Linked DNA regions of Homo sapiens. The gene in region 3 interacts genetically with the main gene of each other region. Each region holds a gene or a part of one and is shown on either strand. Other genes may lie near its edges.

Region 1 (4,247 bases), about 150 Mb from region 3:
GAAGCAGTTTAGGTAATGTTCTGTGCAATGTCTGGATGTAGGAATAAGGTCTGCCTCTTTTAGCTGATATATAACCCAAAAGTAACTTAATGTGATAATCGTGGGTAACAGGCTGGGCATAGTGGCCCATGCCTGTAATCACTGCCCAGCACTTTGGGAAGCTGCGGTGAATGATCATTTGAGCCCAGGAGTTGAAGACTAGCCTGGACAACATAGCGAGATCCTGTTTCTACAAAAAAGTAAAACAAACATTTTTTTAATTAAAAAATATAAATTGGCCGGGCGTGGTGGCTCACGCCTGTAATCCCAGCACTTCGGGAGGCTGAGGCAGGCAGATCACCAGGTCAGGAGATCTAGACGATCCTGGCCAACATGGTAAATTCCTGTCTCTACTAAAAATACAAAAATTAGCCGGGCATGGTGGCGTGCGCCTGTAGTCCCAGCTACTTGGGAGGCTGAGACAGGAGAATTGCTTGAACCTAGGAGGCAGAGGTTAGTGAGCCGAGATCGCGCCACTGCACTTCACCCTGGCGACAGAGTGAGAGTTTGTTTCAAAAACAAAACAAAACAAAACAAACAAAAAATACACACACACACACACACACACACATATATATAAATAATTGTGGGCAATCCGATATATATATAAATAATTGTGGGCAATCCGCTTGCCCTGGCCTCCCAAAGTACTGGGATTACAGGCGTGAGCCACCGTGCCTGGTCTGAAATATGATTCTTTAAGGCTGGGCATGGTGGCTCACGCCTGTAATCCCAGCACTTTGGGAGACTGAGATGGGAGGATCACTTGAGGTCAGGAGTTCAAGACCAGCCTGGCCAACATGGTGAAACTCTCTACTAATAATACAAAAATTAGCCGGGCATGGTGGAGGGCACCTCTAATCCCAGCTACATGGGAGGCTGAGGCACAAGAATCACTTGAACCTGGGAGGCAGAGGTTGCAATGAGCCGAGATCTCACCACTGCACTCCATCATGGGTGACAGAGCGAGACTCGGTCTCAGTAAAAAAGAAAAAATGATTCTTTTTTTGAGACGGAGTCTTGCTCTGTTGCCCAGGTTGGAGTGCAGAGTGCAGTGGCGCGATCTCTGCTCACTGCAAGCCCCACCTGCCAGGTTCACGCCATTCTCTCGCCTCAGCCTCCCAAGTGGCTGGAACTACAGGCACCCACGACCACGCCCAGCTAATTTTTTGTATTTTTAGTAGAGACGGGGTTTCACCGTGTTAGCCAGGATGGTCTTGATCCCCTGATCTCGTGATCTGCCTGCCTCAGCCTCCCAAAGTGCTGGGATTACAGGTGTGAGCCACTGCGCCCAGCCAAAAATAATTTTTTTAATTACCTTTCTGGTGAATGAGTCTGGGGATTCTCTTCAGTGTGTTATTAATAAAACACAGAAGTAGAGAGGCCTTTCTGCTTCTCAGAAGTTTAAACAGCTGTGTGTGCAGTGGCTTGCACCTGTAGTGCCAGCTATTCAGGAGACTGAGGTGAGAGAACTGCTTGAGCCCAGGTGTTCAAGGCCAGCCTGGACAACATAGCAAGACCCTGTTTCTTAAGAAAAAAAAAAAAGGTTTGAAAATACTTATCTCGAAGCACCTGCACAGTGAGCAGTTAGAAAGGCAACCAGCAGACAATGCACGTAAAAGTATTTGACATATGGAGTGCTCCAGTTGTTTCCATCAGTTCTCTTTCCTCATACTGTGGTGGCAGAAGTACAAATGGCACCTTTACCAGAAGGACACTGTAAAAGTTCAGTGAAGCTCTGCGGTTTCCGGTGTGGCTGTCTTCATCCCTAATCCTAAATGTTAACTTTGCAACCCTGTAAGATTTCATGTCTGTACCAGAAACTTTTTGTGAGGAAGCCTTGACTGGCCATTAGGGAGCAGAACAGTGAGGGAAAGTCTCAAGAGTAATATATCCGCGTGCTGAGCTGTGGAAGGAATGAACAGCGGCCTTTCTCTGAATGGTAATGTAGCTCTCAAAAACGCTGCCTGGTTCTTAATCCAAATGTCCAGAACCATTCTGTGCCTGGCAGCACACATCCAGACAAATGAAAGAGGGTCTCTTCACTTGCTAAAAGCCATTATAAGGAGAAATAAAGAAAAGGGAAAAAATTAAAAGAGGATCTCTAAAGGAACTTTCGTATTGCCTGCTGTTTGCAATCATACTGTCTGCTGCTGCTGCAGTAGAAATTTCTGAGCCGGGTGCGATGGCTTATGCCTGTAATTTCAGTGACTCAAGAGGCTGAGGTGGGAGGAGTGCTTGATCCGAGGAGTTCAAGACCAGCCACATCAACATAGGGAGACCCCATCTCTGCACCACCAACAAAAAATTAGCCAGGCATGGTGGCTCACGCCTATGGTCCCAGCACTTTGGGAAGCTGAGGTGTGAGGATTGCTTGAGGCCAGGAGCTCAACACCAGCCTGGGCAACATAGCAAGATCCTGTCCCTACAAAAAAAAGTTTTTAATTAGCTGGGTGTGATGGCACACACCTGTAGCCCCACCTACTTGGGAGGCTGAGGCAGGAGGATCACCTAAGTCCAGGAGTTTGAGGCTGCAGGGAGCCGTGATTGTGCCACTGCACTCCAGCCTGGGCAACAGAGTGAGACCCTGTCTCTAAGAAGACATTTCTTCTGGTGCTTTGGTGATGCTTCTGCTCAGCCTTTCTGTCTGTAGTCTCAGTCCGATAGTCCAGTCTGCTTTGAGGGCCCACCAGGACCTGGAGGAGGGGCCAGTTTCAGTCAAGGGTCTGCAGTTGACCTTGAGAACTTAGCACATTCATTATCTTTTTGTGGGCACTTCCACCTCCCATTAGAAAGAAAAAGATGGGCCCAGTGCGGTGGTGGCTTATGCCTGTAATCCCAGCACATTGGGTATCCACGGTGGGTGGATCACTTGAGCTCAGGAGTTCGAGACCAATCTGGGCAACATGGCAAAACCCCATCTCTACAAAATCCAAAAAAATGAGCTGGGTGTGGTGTCACATACCTGTAGTCTTAGCCACTTAGGGGGCCGAGGCAGGAAGATTACTTGAACCTGGGAGGTTGAGGAGGCTGCAGTGAGCTGAGATCACACCACTGCATTCCAGCCTGGGTGACAACGTGAGACCCTGTCTCAAAAAAAAAAAAAAAGAAAGGAAAAGATAGGGGTTGGTGTCTATGGGTATGTTGGTGTCTATGGGTATGGGCTCTCAGCCCGTCTCTTCTCATTAACTGAACCACACTGTTTCTTTACACAGGCCCCACATCAAGACCATCTTCCAAGGCATTGCTGCAAAAGTGGGAACTGGAGAACCCTGCTGTGACTGGGCAAGTTCTGGGCTACTCTTTAAAGCCAATTGGCAACATGGGCGTGTCTAAGTGATGAAGTGCGTGGAGAAAGGCCACCGTGGTCTCCCAGGGGTTAGCTTGGTGACATAAACGTCTCGATCTTTGATTGCTAGAATAGCCAACGCCTAGAATGCATGCCTGCTGTTCACATCTTTGTATCTTAGCTGACTGTTCATAGCCTTGAGGTTGATATTAAAAGCAGCCTTCTATAATTCATCTAAAAGATGAATTCTTTAAAAAGGAATAGGATGAAGTGAAATAAGATTTTTTCGAGCCATATTATTTCATGGCCAAAGGAAAGAATGTCAGAATCAAAAGTGGCGTTTGCTTGCATGGGTGAAAGGTGGAAGATTGAAGGTACTGTTGCTGTGTCAACATTCCATGAACGTGGAAAATTCCCCATCCTGTAGTGTGGGATTCAGGCATTCTGTGCTTGAACAAAGTAACCTGTGGACTTGCACCCTCACTGAATATGAAGGAGGCCTAACCTAGTTCATAGTACAGTGGTGCGATCTTGGCTCACCGCAACCTCCACCTCCCAGGCTCAAGCAATCCTCCTGCCTCAGCCTCCTGAGTAGCTGGGACTGCAGGTGCATGCCACCACGCCTAGCTAATATTTGTATTTTTTGTAGAGACGGGGTTTCACCATGTCACCCAGGCTGGTCTCAAACTCCTGGACTCTCAAGTCATCTGCCTGCCTTGGCCTCACAAAGTGCTGAGGTTACAGGCATGCGCCACCATGCCCGGCCTCGTGTTGCTGTTAAAGTAAACTTTATCTCATATTGTAGTTCAGCCATGCTGTGGATGGAAAAAAGCATTAGGCTCAGGAGACCTGAGTGGCAGTTCTGGCTTTCCATAAACTTAACTGTGACATCAGGCAAGCCACGTCCCTTCATGGACTT
Region 2 (3,847 bases), on a different chromosome or scaffold from region 3:
GTGATCATTGCAAAGCGATTCACTCCTGTTGTCTTACCCATCAGAATGCAGTAGACTAGAAACCACAAGAAATGAACAGATGTAAACAGAAACACTGGCCCCTCATCCAGGTGGCCTAAGAAACACCCACAGACTCTAAAGCCAGGTCTGGGGACTGCTCCTCCCTCCCTCTTTGGGCTGTCCCATCACACACAGGCACTTTCCCTCGGGAGGGCCTTCCCTAGAGGTGCCTCTGACCCCAGGGCGGGGCTCCCTCTTTCCAGAGCTAGCCATTCATCCGCACCTCCATCCATCCAGGGCGGGGCTCCTTCTTTCCAGAGCCAGCCATTCATCCGCACCTCCATCCAGTCAGTGGAAATGCACCTCTTGGCTGGAAGCACTGGGAGCATGTCTCCACCGCCACCTTGTTCTCCCACGGCAGGTGCCACTGAGCTGGGACAGACCCTGTGGTCTGTGTCCAGTGGGCCTAGGGACTCGCGGTCACTGGAGGGCGTGAGAGCCACATGTCCCGCTCTCCGTGTGGTCCCTGGGTGGCAGTGCCCTCAGAAAACACTGATTCTGCTGGACCAGGGCAGGGGCACAGCATGGTGGGCACCGCCTCAGTGACCATCTCTTCCTCCTCAGCCATCGACTACAGTGACAGCGCCATGCTCCAAGCTCAGCAGCTGCTCCTGGGGCTGGGCTCTTTCCTGGAGGACGCACGTGCCTACATGAAGGGGCAGCTGGCCTGCGGCTCCGTCAGGGAAGCGATGCTGTGGGAGAGGTAAGAGGCCCGCCTAGCACCCGGCGTGGCACCCCTCCTGTGGCCTGCTGGGTGCTGCTGGTGGGCTCTTGAAGGGGAAGAGGGGCCCCCAGGAGACAGGGCGCTGGACAGGAGGTTTGGGGTCAGGGACTGCCCAGAGAGGCCCCAGGAGACAGGGTGCTGGGCAGGAGGTGCAGGTGTGGGGTCAGGGGCTCCCCAGAGGCCACAGGGGACTGGGAGCTGGACAGGAGGTGTGGGGTCAGGGGCTCCCCAGAGGCCACAGGACACTGGGTGCTGGACAGGAGGTGTGGGGTCAGGGGCTCCCGAGACATCCCAGGGAGACGGCGCTGGCAGGAAGTGTGCCTGGGGCCCTCGGGCTCTGAGCCCCCTGCTCAGAGTGGCTTTGGGCTCGGGTTCCCTGTGCGAGGAGCGGAGCTGCTCATCCCTCCCAGTCCTGACTGTGAGGAGCCAAAATCTATAAAACACACAGGCCTGGGCCCACAGCATCGCCTCCACTCCCCACCCACGGGTGTCCTGGGCAGCGCTGCACATTCATCCCGGCATGCAGAGTCTTCCGGATGGTCTTGGTGATAACCCACCCCTGCCACTTCAGCAGGGTAGGCAGCCAGTGGCCACGGGAGGCTGAGATCCGGGAGCCCCGGGCTGGGCCTCCCCAGCCTCTCTTTGTGAGTGGTCAGCCGTGCCGTCTCTCCCCCACCGAGTCTTCCTTGCCACTCCCCTCAATATCTATTGATTTTTAAAACCATCATGAAAATGCCCACGTGTGTCTTGTATTTTAAGTGTCACAGGTGACCTCTGCTCTGGGACTTTTTCTTGGGGTAACATGACAGTTTGCAGTTGATGTTACATAATTTTCTGCTACTCAGGAACTCAAGTCTTTGGGAATATGACCTAGAGAAAGTCCCCAGATTAGAGCCCCCAGCGTCTCTCCCTGGGGAAGGACTGGTGTGGGGGCCGCCTGGGGAGAGTGGAGCTCCCTCTGCTGTGACTGTTCTCTCCTCTTCCCTCAGGCTCTCCAGCACCAAGAGGGCCGTGAAGGCGGCCTTGGCAGATGATTTTGACACACCCAGGGTGGTTGATGCCATCCTGGGCCTTGCACACCACGGGAATGGACAGCTCAGGGCGTCCCTGAAGGTAGCTCAACGAACAGGTGGCCTTGCGGTCCTGCTGCCAGGGGCATGGGTCGGGTCCTCTGGTGGGTTTTTCTCATGTCGGCTGGGTGGCATCTCTGCTGATTTCGCCTCCCGCAGCTTCTGTGGAGGAACTCATGGAGCCCGAGTCTGCCGCTGACACACGGGATGGCACCCAGCCTGGGGCTTGACCCTCCCGGGCCTCAGGGCCACCTGGGGAACAAGCTCTCAGGAGCCCCTGAGGCTGAGAAATTCTGTGTGCTTGATCCTCAGGGGACACATCTCATGTCCCCACTGCATTCATGGCCCTTTCACAGAGAGAGCTTTTGTGGGGAACTTTTTAAGGAAAGACCCATTTACCCCAAGGCACTGTTATGCAATCTGCACCCCAGTGTGATGACCACACCAAGCACCCAGGGGTCTGAGCCTGGACTCGTGGGTCACTGCAAGTGTTTGGCAGGTGGGACAAAGACCGTGAAGGCGGCGGCAGGCTTTGGTTCCTGCACGTCTGAGGGTCCCCTGCCAGGCCCTGGGAGGCGCTGCGTCAGGAGCCCCGTGACCTTTGATGACCCGGGAAGCCGAGGCTGTTTGTGCCTCTCCCACCTCTGGAAACACCTGGGGGTTCTGGCCACATGCTCTGTTAGTTGAGCATCTCTGTGGAGGTCTCCATCCCTGGCTGCGTGCAGTGTTGGGTTTCAGAGCACCAGCAGGTGGGGCAGGGTGCCATGTGCCCTTGCCGGGTGCCTTCGGTCCAAATACTGCAGACGCGCAGGGCTCGCCTCTGAGGGGGGCGGGCATTTGAGTCACAGCCGGCTGCAGGAACAGGCTGCCCCGCACTGAAGGCAGCCAGGCCGGGCTGGGGCAGGTCCCGCAGCCAGGCTGCTCCTGCACGGGAGCTCCTCCTCCTCAGCCCGTCCGCGGCCTCCTGCCTTCACCGCAGCTGCTGCCGGCACTACCAGGCTGGCCCAGCTCTAGGGCAACAGGGGCCTCTTGTGGCAAGGGGCGGGACAAGTAAAGAGGCTGGCTTTTGTCCTGCGCTTTTCCTTCCCAAGCTTTGCAATTCTGGGGCACCTGCAAACTAAGGCTAGTGTCACCCAAGGGTCTCTGTGCTTGGTAACTGATGTGAGCCACGTACCAGGATTTCCCCGTTTTCTGAGAAACCCAGCCCAGTGCCCACTCAGCCTCCACCTACCATGCGCCACCTGCCATACTCCACGGTCATGCTTCACCCGCGAAGCCTGATGAGCTAGTCACCACCCACATGACTGATGGGTAAACTGAGGCACAAGAGATTCCTCATGCACCTATAGTTGTATGGTCTGCAGTGAGGTAGCCGATGCCAGAGCTGTGTCCTCCCTCCATAGAAGCCAGGAGAAAGGCCAGACTGAAGTGACCTGCTGAAGCCTTTGTCTTTTGACATTGAATTCCGTTTGCCCACTGCCATCAAGACTGCTTTTAAGGAGCTTCTGCGACATGATCTCTTACAGGAACCTGAAGGGCCGAGAAGTCCTGCTGTGTTTGGTGCCATCATCTCTTACTTTGAACAGTTTTTTGAAACTGTTGGAATTTCTCTGGCAAATCAACAGGTAGGTCCTATTATTTTAAATGCTTAATTCTGGAATTTTCTCCATGTTGGGACAATAACCTTTACCCTTTTAACTTGGAATAGAGCATTATGATGCCACACTAATGTATTTACCTGTTTAAAAACATGTTACTTTCCTGGAAAAATAAACACACTCAGAGCCAATACTTATTAATTGGAATTGCACAATTCTACTTCTGCAGTTGGCAAACTCTCGTGCGCAGAACCAGAGATGAGTCCATCTCAGCAACAGAATGTCGCCAGCTCTGCACACACGTTTATGTTCAAAGACTCTCAGAATGTGCAGAAGTCACAGGCACAGTAAGAGAACATTTTTTCCTGACCCATTTGAGGGCAAGTTGGCGACCT
Region 3 (4,994 bases):
CCTGTCAGACATTAAAATATTCATACTTTTTCTTTCACATAGGGAAATAATCTTCCAAGTATATACACATAGCAGTTACATTATATCATTATGGTTTTGATTTGCATTTGTCTAATGGCTAATGATGTTAAGCACCTGTTCATGCACTGATTGGCCATTTATTTATCGTCCTTGGAAAGATGTCTATTCAGATCCATTTGTCATTTTATTGATTGAGTTGTAAGAGTTTTTTATGTATTCTGGATAAAAGTCCTCCATGATTTGCAAATATTTTCTCCCATTCCTTTGAGTTGTCTTTTCACTTTCTTGATGGTATTATTTGCAGCACAAAAGTTAGTAATTTTGATGAAATCCAATTCATCTGTTTTTTCTTTTGTCATTTATGATTTTGGTGTCATCTGTGAAACCACTGCCTAATCCAAGATCATGAAGATTTATTTCTATGCTTTCTACTAAGAGTTTTATAGTTTTAGTTCTAGCATTTAGGTCTCTAATTCATTTTAATTTAAATTTTTGTGTAATAGAGATTTGAATGATTTAAAATTTTTCCTCTCTTCAGAGGTAGCAACACTAGAAGATAAAGATAAAAAAAGGGCCAGGCGCAGTGGCTCATGCTGGTAATCCCAGCGCTTTGGGAGGCTGAGGTGGGCGAATCACTTGAGGCCAGGAGTTTGAGACCAGCCTGGCCAACATGGCAAAACCCTGTCTCTACTAAAAATGCAAAAATTAGCGAGGCATGGTGGCATGCATCTATAAGGCCAGCTACCTGGGAGGCTGAGGCACAAGAATGGCTTGAACCCAGGAGGCGGAGGTTGCAGTGAGCTGAGATCACGCTTACTGCACTCTAGCCTGGGCAACAGAGCGAGACTCTGTCTCAAAAAAAAAAAAAAAAAAAAGAGAACCTAATTTTTTTTCTGACTCTTCTCTGGACTGAGTACACTGTTTTTACCTTTTCTTAGTTAGATGATGAACTAGATGATATAGCAAGGCTTGATGTCTAAACTGGCAAGTGAAGTTTTTATAGAGACGGATGTTGAAAGGAGGAATAACATACTAAAACATATGGCACATTTAGTTTATGATGAGATCCCAAGTAGTCTGTCTCCCATCATAAACTTGAACATGAGTTTAAATCTTCTCCTTTTCAAGGCCGGGTGCAGTGGCTCACACCTGTAATCTCAGCACTTTGGGAGGCAAAGGTGGGCAGATCACTTGAGGTCAGGAGTTCGAGACCAGCCTGGCCAACTTGGTGAAACCCTGTCTCTACTAAAAATACAAAAATTAGCTGGGCGTTGTGGTGGGCACCTGTCATCCCCACTACTCAGGAGGCTGAAGCAGGAGACTCGCTTGAACTTGGGAGGTGGAGGTTGCAGTGAGCCAAGATTGCACCACTATACTCCAGCCTGGGTGACAGAATGAGACTCTGTCTCAAGAAAAAAAGAAAACAAAAATCTTCTCCATTTCAAAATGGTTTAGAATTGTATGAGGTGCCAGGGGTCCCAGTTTTATGTATCATATTAGTTGTAACTTATGAGCAGCTGTGACAAGCTACTTGGTTTTCTCCTCAGGGGTCTCTCTTTTTGGCATGTCGGCCCTGTTACTCCCTGGGAACTTTGAGTCTTATTTGGAACTTGTGAAGTCCCTGTGTCTGGGGCCAGCACTGATCCACACAGCTAAGTTTGCACTTGTCTTCCCTCTCATGTATCATACCTGGAATGGGATCCGACACTTGGTAAGTTAATTCGGGATTTGCACATTTTCTCTGTGAAGGGAGTGGGGAGACTGGGAGGATTCTTTCCTTCATTACTGGGTTTAGTGCTGTTCTTTTTTTTTTTTCCCAAGAGTGGAGTCTCGCTCTATTGCCCAGGCTGGAGTGCAGTGGTGCGATCTCAGCTCACTGCAACTTCTGCCTCCTGGGTTCAAGAGATTCCTGTGCCTCAGCCTCTTAAGTAGTTGGCGTTATAGACGCATGCCACCACTCCTGGTTTTTGTATTTTTAGTAGAGATGGGGTTTCACCATGTTGGCCAGGCTGGTCTCAAACTCCTGGCCTTAAGTGATCCGCCTGCCTAAGCTTCCCAAAGTGCTAGGATTATAGGCGTGAGCCACCGCGCCCAGCTAGTGCTGTTCTTAAGGTTAGTTGTGACTCAGAGTCCTCTTGGGGAAAGCCAGACAAGTTCACAAGTTCCCCTGTGTGTTACCTGGCAGTCCTGCTGGTGGTGTAGCTGAGCAATGGTATAGGCCTCACAGATACTTGCAGGGTCTCATTGGGAACTCTTCCTTTTTTAATTTAATTTAATTTTATTTTTTGAGACAAAGTCTCGCTCTGTCTCCCAGGCTGGGGTGCAGTTGGCGCGATCTTGGGTCACTGCAAACTCCACCTCTTGGGTTCAAGAGATTCTCCTGCCCCAACCTCCCGAGCAGCTGGGACTACAGGCGCCTCCCACCACGCCCGGCTAATTTTTTGTATTTTTAGTAGAGATGGGGTTTCCCCATGTTAGCCAGGCTGGTCTCAAACTCCTGACCTTGTGATCCACCCCTCTCAGCTTCCCAAAGTGCTAGGATTACAGACGTGAGCCACTGTGCCCTGCTGAACTCTTCATTTTTAAGAGGGATATTTAAAAGAGATCCCTGAAGGCATAGAATGCATGTTTATGACATAAATATTAATTGGTACCTATTTATGTGTCAGGTACTGTTGTAGACACTGGGGATTCAGTTATGAGCTAGATAACCATTGTTGCTGCTTTCATTCTTCCGTTCCTGTTGACCCAGAGTAGTGCTTCTGACAGGACTCAAATAGATTACCTTTTCTTATCTACACATTATATTGCATTTCTGTTTTGAGATGTTGGACAGAATTGGGCCAACTTTAATAGAAACTGGGTGCCAAGAATTCCAGGTTTCAATATTGAGGTTAGGAATCTTTTTTTTTTTTTTTTTTTTTTGAGACAGAGTCTTGCTCCATTGCCCAGGCTGGAGTGCAATGGTGCAATCTCAGCTCACTGCAACCTCCACCTCCCAGGTTCAAGTGATTCTCCTGCCTTAGCCTCCCAAGTAGCTGAGATTACAGGTGCCCACAACCACGGCCAGCTAATTTTTTTTTTTTTTTGGTATTTTTAGTAGAGACGGGATTTTGCCATGTTGGCCAGCCTTACAGGTGCCTGCCACCACACCCAGCAAATTTTTTTTTTTTTGTATTTTTTAGTAGAGATGGGGTTTCACCATGTTGGCCAGCCTGGTCTTGAACTCTTGGCTTCCCAAAGTGCTGGGATTACAGGCGCGAGCCACTGCACATGGCAGGAATCATTTAATAGATTGGAAACTGTCCATGTTGCCTCCTATGTGACCTCATCGTCTGCTCAAAACTGGTTTCTAAAATTAGCCAGGTATGGTGGTGTGCGCCTGTGGTCCCAGCTACCCGTAAGGCTGAGGTGGGAGGATCGAATGAGCCTGGGAGGCGGAGGTTGCACTGAGCCGAGATTGTGCCACTGCACTTCAGCCTGGGTGACAGAGTGACCCCATCTAAAAAAAAAATAGGCGGGCACAGTGGTTCACGCCTGTAATCTCAGCATTTTGGGAGGCCGAGGCGGGCGGATAATCTGAGGCCGGGAGTTCGAGACCAGCCTTACCAACATGGAGAAACGCTGTCTCTACTAAAAATACAAAATTAGCCGGGCATGGTGGCACATGCCTGTAATCCCAGCTACTCGGGAGGCTGAGGCAGGAGACTTGCTTGAACCCGGGAGGCAGAGGTTTCAGTGAGCTGAGATCATGCCATTGTACTCCATCCAGCCTGGGCAACAAGAGCGAAATTCCGTCTCAAAAAAAAAAAAAAAAATACAAAAATTAGCTGGGGGTGGTGGCATGTGCCTGTAATCCCAGCTACTTGGGAGGCTGAGGCAGGAGAATCCAGGAGGCAGAGGTTGCAGTGAGCCAAGATCATGCCACTGCACTCTAGCCTGGGTGACAAAAGTGAAACTCAGTCTCAAAAAAAAAAAAAAGAAAAGATTTTATATTTTGTAGTCTCCCTAGTTTTGCTTCCAAGAAGGCAATTAAAATTCAGTTCTTTCTGTATTTTCATTACTTCTGAATCTGAGTCAACTGTCAGATGGATGCTTTTGCCTTAATTTGACTTTTTATTACTTCCAAATCATAGCCTTAGAGACAAGCACTTTCTGGATTTCAGTCTGGTCCAATAGACAGTTTAATGGAATAAAAAAAATGAGAGACTAAATTACTTATTAAATTAAGTGTCTGTATCAACTGTTCCCTGGGGCAGTGTTCAGTTTGATTTAAAATGACTTTTTACTTCCCTGAGGGGGAGGCAGTAGAGAGGGAGGACATTTCCATTAATGACTTCCTATTCCACAGAACAAAGCTCTGTAAAGAAAATCAGCTGATCAGCTTCCTCTGTTCATATTTTGGCTCAGACAGAGACTTGCCCTATATTTGTCTTTGTCTCAATATGGGGGTAAGAGAGGGGAGGTTTTATAAAATTGCAGAACTTAGAGCTTTTCTGCCCTGGTTCTTGCCTGTGATGGTAATCTTTTTGTTGAGGGAAGTGAAGAACCTAAGGGTCCTTAAGTCTGCTTTTATTTTTTCTTCTAGCAAGTACTGGCTGTGAGTGTGGGACAGGATTTTGTGTTTTCTGTGACAGTCTGCAGTTTTTGGCCTCTGAACTTGATAGTTGACTTGCCAGAAGATCTAATGGGGGAGTGAGGAGTGAAAGAGTAGGATGTTATAGGGTCTGTGGCATTCTAGGGAATATCCCTGCCTACTACTGCTACCCAGTAGGACTCACTCTCTATAAAACATTGTCCTTATTTAAGCAAAACAACTCTTTGTGGAATCTGCTTGACTCCTAATCTCCTAGTTAGAAGCAATTTGAGGGTTGAGGTGGAGGCATCTTCTCATCTTGATTTTTTTTTTTTTTTCTGGGCTTCCATCTTTTCTCTGAACTGACTCCTAATTTAGGCAGTTTTACATTCAGACT

The links. A genetic interaction does not mean that the proteins touch.
Region 1: changes in SDHC (region 3) and PGD together harm fitness more than expected from each alone (negative genetic interaction), as found in Homo sapiens cells (one large-scale study listed by BioGRID).
Region 2: changes in SDHC (region 3) and CARS2 together harm fitness less than expected from each alone (positive genetic interaction), as found in Homo sapiens cells (one large-scale study listed by BioGRID).

What each region holds. Positions count from the first base shown.
Region 1 is NC_000001.11:10,404,817-10,409,063, forward strand, and holds part of PGD (6-phosphogluconate dehydrogenase, decarboxylating), read left to right. Parts: intron 1-3,254; coding exon 3,255-3,324; intron 3,325-4,247. UniProt on the Homo sapiens protein: Catalyzes the oxidative decarboxylation of 6-phosphogluconate to ribulose 5-phosphate and CO(2), with concomitant reduction of NADP to NADPH.
Region 2 is NC_000013.11:110,644,017-110,647,863, reverse strand, and holds part of CARS2 (probable cysteine--tRNA ligase, mitochondrial), read left to right. Parts: intron 1-624; coding exon 625-763; intron 764-1,232; coding exon of another isoform or gene 1,233-1,503; exon of another isoform or gene 1,504-1,767; intron 1,768-1,773; coding exon 1,774-1,897; intron 1,898-3,257; coding exon of another isoform or gene 3,258-3,281; exon of another isoform or gene 3,282-3,380; coding exon 3,381-3,479; intron 3,480-3,681; exon of another isoform or gene 3,682-3,799; intron 3,800-3,847. UniProt on the Homo sapiens protein: Mitochondrial cysteine-specific aminoacyl-tRNA synthetase that catalyzes the ATP-dependent ligation of cysteine to tRNA(Cys). In addition to its role as an aminoacyl-tRNA synthetase, has also cysteine persulfide synthase activity.
Region 3 is NC_000001.11:161,355,109-161,360,102, forward strand, and holds part of SDHC (succinate dehydrogenase cytochrome b560 subunit, mitochondrial isoform 1 precursor), read left to right. Parts: intron 1-1,568; coding exon 1,569-1,732; intron 1,733-4,994. UniProt on the Homo sapiens protein: Membrane-anchoring subunit of succinate dehydrogenase (SDH) that is involved in complex II of the mitochondrial electron transport chain and is responsible for transferring electrons from succinate to ubiquinone (coenzyme Q).